2 linked regions of the Homo sapiens genome follow. The protein of the gene in region 2 purifies or fractionates together with the protein of the main gene of each other region. This does not show direct contact. Each region holds a gene or a part of one and is shown on either strand. Other genes may lie near its edges.

What was found.
Region 1: the proteins of OSTF1 (region 2) and MYO1E purify together in Homo sapiens (co-immunoprecipitation; 4 studies listed by BioGRID and IntAct, with this or other methods). This does not show direct contact.

The regions. Positions count from the first base shown.
Region 1 is NC_000015.10:59,369,109-59,377,794, forward strand, and holds the start of MYO1E (unconventional myosin-Ie), read right to left. Parts: upstream 3,764-8,686; 5' UTR 3,393-3,763; coding exon 3,390-3,392; intron 1-3,389. UniProt on the Homo sapiens protein: Actin-based motor molecule with ATPase activity. Unconventional myosins serve in intracellular movements. Their highly divergent tails bind to membranous compartments, which are then moved relative to actin filaments.
Region 2 is NC_000009.12:75,125,782-75,133,970, reverse strand, and holds part of OSTF1 (osteoclast-stimulating factor 1), read right to left. Parts: intron 7,495-8,189; exon of another isoform or gene 7,469-7,494; coding exon of another isoform or gene 7,466-7,468; intron 6,403-7,465; coding exon 6,352-6,402; intron 3,394-6,351; coding exon 3,330-3,393; intron 2,202-3,329; coding exon 2,148-2,201; intron 678-2,147; coding exon 570-677; intron 1-569.

The sequences.
Region 1 (8,686 bases), on a different chromosome or scaffold from region 2:
TTACCTTCCCAGGAAACATTTGAAATGTATTCCAGACTTTCTAAATACATGCCATGCCATCACCTAAAGGAACTTACCTACCTTATCATCAGCTATCCATCAGATTTCTAGGTTGTAAATCTATTCCTGGGTATTCTTATGTGTCATATCTATAATTTCCTCACAAGTATATGCAAGTAAGGAAAAGGGAACAGCTCTTGAACATGTTTTGAGGTGATGGTCAATTCAGATTTGCTCAAATATTTCTGTATATTTAATGCACAGAAACCTTGCATAAAAATCAATCACAATTTCTGGATCCAAAGCACATAGCGGACCTACAGCCATGGGTTTCAGTCTATCAGAGAGTCCAAACTGGTCATGGCCACAAAAGCAGAACTTCCTTTGCAGATGATGATAAGCCCAGATTCTACGAAGGAAGCCTTAGATGGGTATTACGGTTAAAGTCAACAGAGATTTTTTTGTACTCTGCTAAACAACCTCCACTAAATTATAAAGATGTGCAGGGTTTTTTTTAACTTCTTCAAGTCTCCTTAGGAAAAAGACACAAGTAACTATTGCCTGGTAGTGTTCCTAGTTTTCTCAAGATAGAAAAGTGTCCCAAAGTGAGTTTTCAGGAGGAAGATAGAAGGTGAACTACAAGCTGTACACTGTGTTCATGAGTCAGAAAATGAAAATGGCTATTTTCCTTATGAGTCACAACTGAATGAGTCTTAGTAGGGCCTCAGGTACAGATGGAGAGCCCTCCTACTATGCTACCAGACTTCCTAAAAGACACACGCACACACACACACTCACACAGAAGAAGTCCACGGTATAGGTGTTCTCCCTATAGCCCAGCCAAGGGCCTTCTTTTTCTTCTTCTTCTTCTTAATATTTTTTAACTGAAACAGGGTCTCACTATGTTACCCAGGATGGTCTTGAACTCCTGGGCTCAAGTATTCCTCCTGCCTCAGCCTCCCAAAGTGCTGGGATTACAGGCGTGAGCCACTGCGCCTGGCCGCCAAGGGCCTTCTGATGAATTTTAGCCTCCATGCTAATCTTCAGCCACACCCAAAGAAGGTAATGTCCTTTCCCTTCCTGTTCTAAGCAGCTGAAGGGATACAACTTGGGCAGGCCTGGGCAGATGTGGAACACAAAATGAAGTATCATTTGGCTTGACAGAGTCTGACATAAACATTAAATATTGTAACTTGGGTTTCTGATTATTTAAGATGATGCTCTATTCTAAGGCAACTTCACATACATAATGAACAATTTTTCAAGTCAGGAAAGAAATGATTAACTTTGGCCAAATCACTCTGGATCCAGTAGATCTATCAATGGCACATCTCCTGTTTCAGGACAGCCAGCTGTTTCAACTTTTCCATCAGTGAATTGTGACTTCAGCAACCATATCTGATGCACAGATAGTCGCCTGGGGGCACACAACATGCCCATCTGTGCTGATGGCAGGGAGCCCATCAATAGGGAAGTCACACACTGTCCTCAGATAGAACCACCTCTTCCCTACAGCATGCCTTCTTCGCATGCATTTGACCAACCCTCTACTTCATCTGCAATGGGGCTGAATTAAGCATGGTATCACAGGTTTCGGAAAAGGCAACCTAGAGTATATTTCAGTCCATTCAGCATGAAAAATGAGTTTAACTGAGGGGAAGTTAATTTCCTCAAGGTACCACTCAAGTACTTAAATTCAGTAAGATTCTTTAAGTTCTTGACATAAACACATTGATTTTTTTAAGAAATATTGACCCACGGAAAATGATTACAGCAATTCTCAAGTACCAGGACTATCACACTGCTTCAAGGGACCAGGTGCCCAGTGAGGTAGCTTCACCCAAACACATGCCCAATGGGAATGGTTCTCTGCTGGGGTGAGGGAAGGGGTCCAAAAGTAACGTAGAGTAGACTGACTTCTTAAACCTTAAAACTAGAAGAGGAAATGTATAGACAAAGTGTTCTCTTAGATGGGGCAAAAGTGACTTAATTTTGGACTATGTAAAAAGAAAAGGCTTTGGCCGAGGATGCCTTGAAAGGTTTCTCGTTGATGTTTGTTTGTAATCATTCTTTGGAATAAACAGCACGGGGCAAGGGGGCTTCTGAGCTTTGTGTGCAGGTTTCGATGGGCCTCTGCTGCACTTCCCTCAGGCTGCTCACCGGGATATCGATTTTTTAATTAGTGTTGTGCTGGTTATCATTTTGACTTGGCTTCTCTTCCACAGCCATTAGAAAACAACAGCAAACCAGAAGAGGACGAGATAATCCACCTAAGCAGGACTACTTGAAAAGAAGCAAGTGTGGAAACTATGAAGCCTTGTAATAGATTTTTTTTTTTTTGATGAACTGCCGATCTCTTCAAAATAGAGTCCTTGCTTTCGTGCCCCGCAAAGAAAAGTACACCACGCCAAAGCCCAAGGGAGGTGGCTAAGGTTATACAGGGAGGGAGGGGAGTGTAGCTGGACTGGGGAGTTGGAATAGCAGAAAAGTCACAAGTCAAAGAGGCGGCCCCTTCCACACATTCCCAAAGTGCCAAAGGGAAAACAGCAACAAACTCGAAACTCGCGAGGGCGTCTTCCCGTGCGAAGCGTCCCCTGGATCCCCGAAAAGCCCCGATCCCCTCGCGCTTGGGAAGGGGTGGGGTCCTCTTCAGGAGGTGTTTACTTGGCGTCCGGGGCGCGGAGACCCTCGGGGCCGGCGCCCGGCACAGGTCCGGGGCGGCGTGGTTGCCGCCCGCGCCCGAGTCTCCCTGGCTCTTGACAGCCCGCCGGCCGCCAGGTGCTCGCCCTACCTGGCGCCCCCGCCTGCCTTTGTGCGGCCCGCGCCGCCCCTCGCCAAGGCGGGCCAGGGACCGCCCCCGCCCGCGTGCCGCTGCCAGGCGGGACAGCTGCGGGCGCTGCCGGGCAGCGGAGCGGCGGCGGGGAGGAGAGGGAGTCGGCGCGAGGGTGCCCGGGGCGGGGCGGGCACGGCCGCGGGGAGGGCAGGGGACGCCGCCAGCGGCTGCGGCGCGAGTCTCCGAGCACCTCCCCTGCCGGCTGCGCCCCCCACGTCCCAGCAGGAGGAGGGGACCCCCTCCCGCGCCGTGCCCCTCGCAGCCGATGCGCCCACACCCTGGCTTCCGACAGCTGGCAGCCATAGCAACCCGGCCACAGAAAGTTTCGCGACGCAGAAACCGACTTGGAATAAAGTTTTCCTTGGCCCCTCGCTCGCTCTCCCCCGGCCCGGGTTTACGGAAAGCGGCAGGAAATCAGAGCTCGCGACGTGCCGGCTCCCGCGTCCACCTTCTCCACCCCTGGCCCCGGCAGCGCGCCCAAGGTGGGTGCACCACGCCGGGGTTTCCTGCCCCGTCCCCGGGTCCGGCGTCCTAGGACGCGGCGCGGCCAACTCACCATGGTGACTCGCGCCGCGGTCGCGTCTTCGCCGGGTCCCGCTGCCGGGGAACTGGGGCTGGAACGCAGTCTTCTGGGCGAACTTCAAAAGTTGGTTCCCCTCGCCAAAAACAGGCTCCCGACACCCAAGCACTCACAGGAGCCAATGGGAACCCAGAGGGGACTCCATCCAGGCGGGATTGGCGGTGCTAGGTGAGGGCGAGACGGCGGCGACTTAGCAGGCGGGGCGCATGCTGCGGAGGGCAAGAGTCCACTCGTACTCGCCGGTCGCCGCCGGCCCAGGTGAGTCCGATGCGCTCGGAGCGTCCGCCTCGCTCCCCTGCCTCACTCCTCTTTCTTCGGCCACTTAATCCGTACTCCTCTGGCTGAGTCTCGGCTCGGGCCGGGCAATCTGTCCATAAATGGAGAACTCAGCTCAGGCCTGACCAATCAGGGTTTGTTTTCGTAGCGTCACTCCTCAGGGAAACCGTAGTAGCCAACAAGCTTGGAGCTGCTGGAGTTTCCAAAGATCTCTGGATCCTGTAGTCCTCCTCCCGCGCCAGCCACCGAAGAACGCTGCGGACCCAGCTCGCTCCTGGTAGCAAGACCCGAACTGTAAGGAACAAAACCCTCGTGAAAGAGGAGCAAACCTTTCACTTCGCTGCGTTTTAAGACGAAAGTTAGGGTGGGTTTCGCTTCCAAGTTGAAGGGGCATGATTTTCCCAGAACTTTTTTTTAAGAAGGAAATATTTTATCAGCATAAAACATCAGAGTCGTGGCAGCAGCCCAAAGGAAATCCTTTTTCTTTCCTACGTCTGGATTGTGAGCAAAGTCAAAAATATCATTTCCCCACCCCTCCTTTTACCTGAATTTCCTTGGAAAACAAAGGAAGACTTCCGGCTGCTTTTTCTTTTCTTTTTTCTGTTTTTCTTTTCTTTCTCTTTCCTTTCTTTCTTGTTTCTTTTTTGCACGTTTTGATGGCAGAAAAGTTGTTGCACGTGCAGTGGGCAGAGGGAAGGAGAGAGGAGAGATAGGTGGGAAGAAACCCCATCCAACCTCAGCCAACACATCTGCTGAAAACAATCAGAACTGTAAAAATGCATTATTCCAGACTGTCGAATATCCAAGGAGAAGATTGGGGTGGGGCGGGGTGGGGGGAAGCAGAATCTTAAAATCAAGGTAGGGAGTTTGATTTTATTGTTCTGGAGGCTGAGGAAGTAAATTTGGTGAGTCTTAACAGGCTGCCTTCCTGGAATCTGTAGAAGATAAAATTGGTAAACTTCAGGGCATAGAGAAACTATGAAGCATAATGATATTATGATACTTTCTGAAATTTGGTTGAGGCAGGGCGCTGTGGCTCACGCCTACAATCCCAGCACTTTGGGAGGCTGAGGTTGGTGGATCACGTGAGGTCAGGAGTTTGAGACCAGCCTGGCCACCAACACGGTGAAACCCCTTCTCTACTAAAAATACAAAAATTAGCCCGGCATGGTTATACATGCCTGTAATCTCAGCTACTCGGGAGGCTGAGGCACGAGAATCGTTTAAACAGGGGAGGCGGAGGTCGCAGGGAGCCGGGATCGTTCCACTCTACTCCAGCCTGGGCGACAGAGCAAGATTCTGTCAAAAAAAAAAAGAAGGAAAGAAAGAAAGAGAGAGAGAGAGAAGAAAGGAAGAAAGGAAAAAGAAATTTGGTTGTAGCTCTTCACTTGACTATCTGAGCATAGAGTTAGAAAGGGTATTAAACTTTATCTTGTCTAAAAGGGTAAACAAAATGTTACAACATGGATGAATCTCGAAAATATCGTGTTAAGCCAGGAGCAAAAGACCACATATTATATAATTCCATTTAAATGAAAGTTGAGGATAGGGAAATCTATAGAGATAAAAAGTAGGTTAGTGGTTTGCTAGGGGCTGGGGGAGAGGGGAGATGGAAGTAATTGCTAACAGGTATGCATTTTCCTATTGAAGTGATGAAAATATTCTGGAATTAGTGGTGATGATTGTACAAGTTTATGAATATACTAAAAACCACTGTGTTATGCTTTTTAAATGGGTGAGTCTTATGGTACGTTCATTATATCTCACTTTTAAAAGTTGAAAGAAAATCATATTGTCCAAATTCTTGTAGTAATCATTTACATAGTTTGGCAACAATATAATCGAATGTGTGTTATAAGACAGCACAGCTAAACACTGGAGCTACAACTGGTCCCTGCCCTCACTGAGCTTACAATTTTAGGATGGGGAAAACAAACGATAAATTTTTAGAAAGAATAAATACAGGAAAGAAGCAAGCATAATGAAATGCGACAGTAGTTTTGTGCAAGGAACTGCCATATTTGGAGCTATAGTTTAGGGCAGGAAATTCATCTGACATAGTTATGTAGTATGAATTGGAAAGAAAACAGCATGCCATCTGTACTAGGCATTGCCTAGGTACACACAGACATGATAAAGTCTCAGATAAGTCTGACTCCATATCTCATAGGGAAATATCAGCTTCAGAATATTATTAGGTCAGCCAAGCTCAGTGGCTCATGCCTACAGTGCTAGCGCTTTAGGAGGCCAAGATGGTAGGATTGCCTGAAGCCAGGCATTCAAGACCAGCCTGGGCATCATAGCAAGACTCTGTCTCTATCAACAAATTATAATAATAAAAATTAGCTGGGCATTATAGTGCATGCCTGTAGTCCCAGCTACTTGGGAGGCTGAGGCAGGAAGATCATGTGAGGCCGGGAATTCGAGGCTGTAGTGAGCTTTGATCGTGCCACTGCACTCCAGCCTGGGCAACAGAGTGAAGCCCTGTCTCAAAACAACAACAACAACAACAACAACAACAAAACCTATCAGGAATTTTAGGAGTGTATGAACAGAGGTTACCAAGACGGAAGTGTCAGCTTACCAGTAACACAAGAAACACTACCTAAGACACCATCCCATCCATGGTCAACCCTCATTAGTAGTCAGATTGACATGGGCTTTGAGATGTACAGACAAAGGCATAGTTTGTTTCCCAAGATTAGCCCAGGTATACAATGAAACACTGAAAATCTCTTAATAAGCCATTGACAGTCGACTGACAATTGATCAGTCTTGGATTTATCAAAAACTACCTTGAGACTATTAGTCCATTATATCATCATTTCTGATTTTTTAAAAAAATGTTTTAGCGTTTACTTTTATTGCCCTAATAATCTATAATCTCTTCCAAGTTTCAAGAGGTACATCTAACTGTAGTAGGCAGGACTTTGATGAAGATGTATGCTTGTGTTCATTTTTTATAATATATATGAGATTTTATATGTACATATGATTTATATATGATTATATATCATTTTATAATATATATGAGCATGAGATTATTATAAAGTCATATATATATATAAAAGCAGTTTTTGCCGGGCGTGGTGGCTCACGCCTGTAATCCCAGCACTTTGGGAGGCCGAGGCGGGTGCATCACGAGGTCAGGAGATCAAGACCATCCTGGGTAACATGGTGAAACCCCGTCTCTACTAAAAAAAAAAAAAAAATACAAAAAATTAGCCAGGCATGGTGGCTGGTGACTGTAGTCCCAGCTACTCGGGAGGCTGAGGCAGGAGAATGGCGTGAACCCAGGAGGCGGAGCTTGCAATGAGCCAAGATCACACCACTGCACTCCAGCCTAGGAGACAGAGCGAGACTCTGTCTCAAAAAAAAAAAGGAACATTTTCCCAATTCTGATTTCCATCTGTTTTTCAGAGGATTCAGTAATATATTGCCAAATATTTATTCTTTCTTTTTTTTTTTTTTTTGAGACGGAGTCTTGCTCTGTCACCCACGCTGGAGTGCGGTGGCGCAATCTCGGCTCACTGCAACCTCTGCCTTCCGGGTTCAAGCTATTCTCTGCTTCAGCCTCCCAAGTAGCTGGAATGACAGGCACCCGCCACCACACCCAGCTAATTTTTGTATTTTTAGTAGAGATGGGGTTTCACCATCTTGGCCAGGCTTGTCTTGAACTGCTGACCTCGTGATCCACCCACCTCGGCCTCCCAAAGTGCTGGGATTACAGGTGTGAGCCACCGTGCCCGGCCTTCTTTCTTTTTTTGAGATGCTCTGTCACCTACACTGGAGTGCAGTGGCTCTATCTCGGCTCACTGCAACCTCTTGCCTCCTGAGTTCAAGTGATTCTCCTGCCTCAGCCTCCAGAGTAGCTAGGAATACAGGCGCCCACCACCACACCTGGTTAATTTTTGTATTTTTAGTAGAGATGAGTTTTCGCCATGTTGACCAGGCTGGTCTCTCAAAGTCCTGATCTCAAATGATCTGCCTACCTCAGCCCCCTAAAGTGCTGGGATTATAGACTTCAGCCACTGAGCCCAGCCAGATATTTATTCTTATTCAAGACCATAGTAGCAGTGAAGTGGAAGCAACTTTTAAAATTGTAAAACTCATTCTAGACACATGATGGAGCTAGTCAGATAAGGCTTTGTAAATACCTTGGCATGATTAATTGCATTTTTTCTGGGGCTGAATGAAAAGGAACAAATAAAAAAATCAAAATGAATACAAAGTAAAATTTTCTGTATAAATCTATCAGTGAACTAAATCATTGTTTATGCATTTTGGAAAGCAGCAAGAAAATAATATCGAGCAATAAAACTAGTTTCCCTGTCAATACCATAAAAAATCATTCAGAATGCACTCACAACACTAAAGTTAATTAATGTGGGGCTGGTGCGGTGGCTCACGCCTGTAATCCCACCACTTTGGGAGGCTGAGGCAGGTAGATCACCTGAAGTCAGGAGTTGGAGAGCAGCCTGGCCAAACATGGTGAAACCCTGTCTCTACTAAAAATACAAAAAAAAATTAGCTGGCTGTGGTGGCAGGCACCTGTAATCCCAGCTACTCGATAGGCTGAGGCAGGAGAATCTCTTGAACCCCGGAGGCGGAGATTGCAGTGAGCCGAGATCAGGCCAGTGCGGGCCAGCCTGGGCAAAAAGAGTGAGATTCCGTCTCAAAAAAAAAAAAAAAGAAAAGAAAAGAAAATTTGGCTGGGCACAGTGGCTCACACCTGTAATCCCAGGACTTTGGGAGGCCAAGGCAGGTGGATCACCCGAGGTCAGGAGTTTGAGACCAGCCTGACCAATATGGTGAAACCCCGTCTCTACTAAAAATACAAAAGTTAGCCAGGCATGGTGTCCTGCACCTGTAGTCCCAACTGTAGTAGAGGCTGAGACAGGAGAATTGTTTGAACCCGGGAGGCGGAGGTTGCAGTGAGCCAAGATCCTGCCACCGCACTCCAGCCTGGGTGGCAGAGCGAGACTCCATCTCCAAAA
Region 2 (8,189 bases):
TTATTGTTGTTGAGTTTATTTCTTTTGTTATAGAGAGAGGTAGAAAAGCGGTGGGTGATAAATTTTTGTCCAGGAAGAAATACATCTAAAAATTCAATTTGTCATTATTATTGATTACAACAGAAAAAGTATCAATGGAATCACTAACTTTGGCAAATGTTGGCTTTCTCTTGAATCTAATAGTTTGCATTAAACTTAAAATGCAAATCATAAAAGAAGACCTTGTGAAAAGCTAAGCTAGAGGAGCAAATTCTGATCTTTCCTTCTGTAAGATTAGACAGTGGTTTTGTTTTTATATTACTGCTGTTTTCCAGTAACCTTTCTAAGCCTGAGAGAGGAAAGGAAGTGTCCAGTCTTTCAAGCGAGAGGGACCCATGCAGTGAGGCTGACTGACCACATTCTACCCACTGTTCTACAGAGCTTCCAGGAACAAGGGTTTTGGCCGGTATTCTAAAGGATTCAAAAAGAATAGCCAATGCTTTTCCTTTCTCATTTTTTGTAAATCTGGCTCCCGTAGGTGAAACACATTTTCAGCAGCATAGAAACATATAACAAACAAAATGTAATACCTTTGTGGCCCCCGTGGCAAGCCCAGTATAAGGCAGTGCTTCCAGCTTTGTCTAAGCCATTAACACCCACTCTGTTGTCCAAACACTCTCTCAACCAGCTCAAGTTGCCTGAAAGAATTTTACATTTACAAGAACACAAGAAAAAAAGCTTTCACTTTTTATTTTGCTTTTAAATCAATGTCATTCTGCATAAATTTCCATTTGCAATGGATTAATCAGCAAGTATTAAATTAAGACCTCCCCATTAATGCATTTATTATGGTACATTTTGACTTCCAGCTTATTAATGGAAAGTATTAACATCAATGTTTCTAATGATAAGTTAATGGGAATAGTTGCCCAAATGGGTATACTTAAGGTATTTCTATTCTGTTAAAAAATATATAGGGGTGTGTGTGTGTGTGTGTGTGTGTGTGTGTGTGTGTGTGTATGTGTGTGTATGTGTATATATTATTTTTTTCTTTGTGAAATTCTGGAAATTGAGGAAAAAACAATCAAACCTAAGAACAAGCAGATACTATTCATATTCATATTTAAAATGCATCTTCAGTTCCTATAAGAAAGGCTAAATAACCTACTCAAAGCTGCTGCTCTTATATGCTAAACTATAACTATTAATTTAAAATCCTCAGGCTAATGTCCCAAGTATCTAATTCACAAAGAATTTTTTAAATGTCAGTTTAGTCCTTTTACTTTTTCACAATCCTAACCAATAATTTCCTTGTGTACATTCAGATTTCCAAAAAAATCTAAAAATGGAATGAAATGGAGCTCATTGAGGCTTTACAAAAACTCCCCATTATCTACAGCAGGGTTTCTCAGCAGCAGCCCCATTGGCATTTGGGGTTGGATTTATTGTGGGGGTGCTCCTGTGTGCTGTAGGATGTGTGGCAACAACGCCTGCCTCTCCCCAAAAGATGCCAGTAACATCCCTCCAGTCATGACAGTCAACATGTCTCCAGATATTGCCAAATACCCTCGGGGTTTGTGAAAGAGGAATCACCCCTAGCTGAGGACTACTGATCTACAGAATAAAGCCCAAGACAAGGCTGATCGTTGTTTGGTCAAGGATCTTCCCCAGGTTCATCCCTGTTAGTCATGCCCTCCCTGGCCAAATGCTCACCACACCAACGCTCTCCTAAATGCTGTACCCACCAGACCCTTCCATTCTCTTGCCCTCCAGTTACTCACCTGGGCCTCTACGGCCTGTCAAACACATTTCAATTGCTGTACTTATCATACCATATTTTAATGATCTGTTACATCTCTCTCTCCCCTGCCAGATGTTGTGCTTTGGAAGTCACAGACCATGTCTTTCGACTTGCATCTCCCCACAACAGTGTTTCTTGACTGACATTTTAAAACTAAAATCACACTTCTCTAGGGTAGTAGATGTTGGGACAGACTGTAAGGCAGGGATTTAACTGAGAAGGTGCAAAGGGAACTTTCTAGGATGGCAGAAATGTTCTAGATCTTGATCTGGGTGTTGGTTACGTGGGTGTATGCACTTGTCAAAGCTAATTGAAATCCGTGCCTTTTACTGTACTGCATACCTCAGTCAAAAAGAATCACACCTACCTCTTTTTGCTGCTTCATGCAATGGATTGTCAATGGATTCTGCCTGCTCAGCCACTAGATTGAAAATAAAAAGTGTTAACCCAATGTGGAATTGCCACACAAATGATTTACTGAAGCCACTCATTCACCACAGTCCCCCAGCTTCAGGAGTACCAGGGCATTCAACACAGTTTCCTTTACTTAATGTGGATAAAAAGTAACAGAAAATCAAATGGATAGTTCTTGCATTAAATGAAGCTGAATTATGTGTTTAGGGAAACCAAGCCAAGCAATAAGGCAATAACATAGTAATTAACTGGAAGTATAAACAAAAACAAACAAACCCGCATACCTGAGTTAAATGCACACTTGATATTACTCAAGTATTTAATAAACAAAGTCACAAAAATGCAAAAGGAAGCATTTGATGTTCATTTTTACATTTTGTAGATCACTCTGCTTTAAAGATACCTGAAAATAATTTTGGTTCTCTTGTGTGTATTTATGTAGGATCGGATGAGGGGAGTATTTTGCTTCCTGTATTCAGAAAGAACAATCAGCATAGCTACCTGCCTCTTAAAGAAGGCATGTTCGCTGCTGTCCTAGAATCAGTAGGAAGTGTTATTAGGAAATGGAAGAAAGAGGATTAAAACTCAGGAGCCTTGTTTATCAATTCTGTGCTCTTTTGACTTGATTCTGCTGACAACTAAACAAGTGTTTTATCTGTTTGTCCCACTTCCAGCTTGAAGCAGCTTCATGGCGGGAGCCGTGTCTCTCATCTCTCAAAGTCTCCAAACTGCCATGATAAGCATTTAATGAACATCACTGCCCCAAACATGAATGAACAAGGCCGGGTTACTCCATCACAAAAGAAACGGCTAGTCTAAGAAACTATCTGCAAGATTGAGTTTATCAGCATTAAAAAAAATTGTTTTAAGGGTTGAAGAAAGTAAAACCATAAGTGTTTCCTTGGAAACCTTGGGTTAAGAATGCTAAAATGCATTCTCTTAGGCCACAGAGTCAGGCTCAAGCACATCTGGTGTTCATGGCCAGTTTATTAACAGAAGGCTCATGGAATAGAAAATGTCCTAGACTGACAATGACTCCATTGCTTTCTCAGCCACAGTAGCAAGCAGAAAAGCATCAAGAACCAAAAAATTCCAAGTGAACGAAGCTAAAGTAAAACCACTCAGCAACACTTACCATAGTTGCTTGGAATTAGTCCAGTCCTGCCTTTGGAGGTGCCTTTCCACCAATTGGTATCGCTCTGGTAAAAGAAGAGTTAAATTAAGTGGTATGAAATCCAGACTGCATTCATTCACTTTTCAAATTATCTAGCTCCTAGGGAGTACCTGTTCTACAAAATGTCCATCAACCCTACCCACACTATCAAGCTTCCTCACGCCCTAGCTGTGGGTGTCCGTCTCCCTTACCACTCAGTTACAAATAAACACGCATCTGCCTGCAACAAATGGAATACGTTTCATGACAGAGTCTCAACAACCAAACAAATAAGAGATGACATGAAACAGAAGAAAACAAATTACGCTAGTTTAGACTAGCTATATGATTTTTTGTCCACAGTTTCATTTCTCTTAGCTTTGAGATAATTTTTTTTATGGGGGAGGAAGTTCTAAAGATCTCTTTATATTATCTTCATTTTGGGGGTAACTTGTTATTATAGAAAAATTTAAACTTACAAAAAAGTAGAAAGAACAATGTAATGACCATATATATACCCATTTCCCAACTGCACAAATCATTTATTAATGACCAATATTGTTTCATATATGCCCCCATGACGTCCCTCCCCTCCTGGATTATTTTAAAATAAATTCTAGACATCATATTATTTCATTTGTAAATATTTCAGTACGTATCTCTGAAAGACACATACTTTTTGAAAGGCAATTATAATGCCATTATCACAGCTTAAAAGTTTTTTCCAACAATAATTCCTTAATATCATCAAATATCTAGGTCGATACTCAAATTTCCCAACTGCCCCATAATTTGGGACTCAAATAAGGGCTATACAATATGATTGATTTGTCTTTAAGTATCTTTTAATCTATAGGTTGTCTCTCCATTCTTTTTTATCTCTTACAATGTATTTGTTGAAGAATCCAGTTGGTTTGTTCTGTAGTGTCAACCTCTATGGATTTTGCCTGTTGTATCCCTGTGTTATCATTAAGCATGTTCCTCTGTTCCCTGTATTGCCTATAAATTGGTCATCAGTTCTAGAGGTTTAATTAGATTCAGCTCCAATTTTTTTTGGCAAGGCTATTTCCTAGGCAGTATTGATTTCTTCCATTAGGAAATGCAAACTATCTAGTCGGCTTCTTTTTGTAATGTTAGTAGCCCTTGATGATCATTGTCTAGATCCACTATTTCCTAGAGGCTGCAAGATGGTGACATTCTAATTCTATCATTCCTTCTTCATTGAAATAACCTGAATACCTCTTTAAACAAAAACTTCCTCATCAGCTCTCAGATTGCCCAGGTAAGAAATTCATAAAGAAAACACAGAATAAATGGTGATTCTTTCCCTTAACAGTTGTCAGAATAAAAACCTGATTTCCTAGCATTCTCTCATGCTGACCAATGAGATTTCCTCAGAAGTAACATTAGAAACTCATAAATTTAAATGTATTTAATGGGTTTCAATTCTTGGAAGTTGTTGCCCTAATTGATGCTCAAATTGTCCTATCTTTGGCCAGTGGGAGTCTCTTCAAGTTCGTTCCCAAGTCCTTTCAGTGTGACCCTACTGTCTTTAGGAGCTTCCATGTTTTCTAATAAGAGGATGTTCTGGGTTTATCTTGTACCTCTGCTGCCCCTGACTTGGTACCAGCCATTTCTCAAAGAAGCCTGTACATTTCAATGGAAAATAACATATTATTATTGGGTTGGTCATTTTTCCTAGGCCCTTTCAAAGAACACAGCAGGGAATATTTTTGTTTTATTTTAGATAAAATACAATGTGATCCTTGCAATTCAGATGAAGGAATACAGAGTTTTTCTTAAACTGTCATTAATCTTACATCTGTGTATCCTTTTTGCTATGCTGAAAATCCGTTAGCAACATCACCGACCTAATTACTCATTTGCTCTAAACCACAATACACATGCAACAATCTCAGAATTAGCAATACCTACATTTCCCTAACAAGGGCATGATTTAAAACAATTTACCCTTTTTTGGCCATTTCTTTTTGTCCATATATATATATGGACAAAATATATATATATATATATATATATATGGACAAAATATATATATATATATATATATGGACAAAATATATATATATATATATGGACAAAATATATATATATATATATGGACAAAATATATATATATATATATGGACAAAATATATATATATATGGACAAAATATATATATATATGGACAAAATATATATATATATGGACAAAATATATATATATATATATATATATATATATATATATATATATATGTCTTTCATACATATCCATATTCTACTATGGATGTTCAGTCAAATTGCTGAGTTTTAAACTTGGAATATTTCCTCTCTGTGTGGTTAGGCCAATTACCAGGGTACAATTAAGTTCATTTGATTCATTCTGCTTTTAATTTTTAGGGATTGCTTTTTACTTCAATTTTTAACCATGTCAAGGTTTACATCAGTTCAAAGTCAAATCCACAAAACAAGGTATAATTTTCTAAAAAGTCTATCTTCCATCTATGTTCATTATACCCTATTTCTCTCCTTCCACCTAGAGAAAGGATCTTTACTCTTCATAGAATAAAACTAAATTTTACTTTGCAACTCATCTTTCAACTTTTTATCTGAAATTGAGAAAAACAAGTGTCTGCATGTATGTGTGTGTACACATACACTCTCACCCTTTCCTAGAAAACTGAGGATATATTATCTACATTTTCTCACTTTGCTTTTTTTTTCACTTAAATTACTTCATAATAGCATATAGAGATATTCCCCATTTCTTTCTACAGCTGCATAATATTCTGTTTGTGGCTAGACCAAAGCTTATTCAACTCTTTCCCTATTGATGGAAATAAGGGCTATTTTCAATCTTATGCTACTATCAATTGTGCTAAAATGAACAGACTTGTACATATGTATTTCTATGTACATATATATTTAAATAACTTACAATGTTATAGCTACATAAAACAGTCTTTATATGTGGTATTACAAGATGTTATCTGGACTTACCATGTCAGTAATGTAGATAATATCACCTTCCTCAAAGTATAATTCATCTGGCTAGAAGAAAAAAAAAAGTTTGACTCCATGTGATTTTTCATGAATTAGAATATGATTATATAGATTCAAAATTCTATCATATTCTAATAAGCAATGTGGTTTTATACACTTAAATCAGCACATAAGCCATATAATAAAACACTACTGAAAAATTAACACATGAATAGACGGCTAGATTTTTTTCCCATGATGAACTTCAAAGAATTACATATATAAAGATTCTCCACACACATCTTGCATTCTTCTACAACCAAAGCAAGACATTTGTATATCAAAATAGAGTATTAATAAAACTTCTTCCTTGTAGAAATTCTAAAAGGTGGTATACATTTTTTCATAAAAATATAAATGTCTAGAATTAGAGTCATGAAAAACAGCCAGAAGCTTGATTTTCTCTTAAACAAGGCCTCAATCCTTGAACACTTTAAGATCAACATCTGCTATCTGCTCATTTTAAGAAAATCATTATCCTAGCTCTTCATGTTCAGGGAGAATGAACATTTTCTGTATGAGAAAAGTTAATATGTAATTCAACCATTAATAAGGCTAAAGAGCTAAAAGATATGAAGCAGTAACTCAGCCAGTCCAGAAACCCCAAGCAGCTCTAAGGAGTTGGCTAATTACACAGACCATATGTGCTCTGGCCTGTACCAACCAAATGTTCTAAAAACTTTCTGAGGCCAGGTGCGGTGGCTCATGCCTGTAATCCCAGCACTTTGGGAGACCAAGGCAGGTGGTTCACAAGGCCAGCAGTTCAAGACCAGCCTGGCCAAGATGGTGAAACCCCATCTCTACTAAAAATACAAAAATTAGCTGGGCATGGTGGGGGATGCCTGTAATCATAGCTACTCGGGAGGCTGAGGCAGAGAATTTCTTGAACCCGGGAGGCAGAGGTTGCGGTGAGCTGAGATCACGCCACTGCACTCCAGCCTGGGTGACAGAGCGAGACTCCGTCTCAAAAAACAAAACAAAACAAACAAACAAACAAAAACAACCAAAAAACACTTTCTGAATAAAGATACACATTTTAAACATCTTTTGACCATCAGTAGATAACACTTACCATGACTTTGTAAGTAAGTAGGGTGATGCCTACCGAGAGCAAATTTCAGGTGTTAGGAAATGTTTACATCATCATGGTGGATGAAAAATGTAGGACACAAATTTCACATGTGATAAGAACACAACTATGCATTAAATAGACACAAAAATTTCCAAATTCTGTCATGAGCATGTGTTGCTTTCATATTTCAGGTGGGAAAAATACTTTTAAAAGAAAGGCTTTGATATTTCTGATTATAATTACTATTCCATATAAATCAAAATTATGCTAGTGAAACAAATTACTTCATCCAGCCAGGCGTGGTAGCTCATGCCTGCAATTCCTGCACTTTGGGAGGCTGAGGCGGGCAGATCACTTGAGGACAGGCGTTCGAGACCAGCCTGGCCAACATGGTGAAACCCCATCTCTACTAAAAACACACACAAAAAATGTGCCAGGTGTGGTGGTGCACACTTATAATCCCAGCTATTCGGGAGGCTGAGACTTGAGAATCACTTGAACCTGGGAGGCAGAGGTTGCAGTGAGCCAAGATTACGCCATGGCACTCCAGCCTGAGTGACAGAGCAAGACTCTGTCTCAAAAAATTTTTTTAAAAAATGAAATTAAAAATAAAATATTTCATCCATTCATTTTTCCATTTGTTTACCTCCTCTCAGTAGCAGACTAGAGCAGTAAATATGATTCTGCACTAGCAATTTATTTAGTTTTAAAGCTGATCTACATT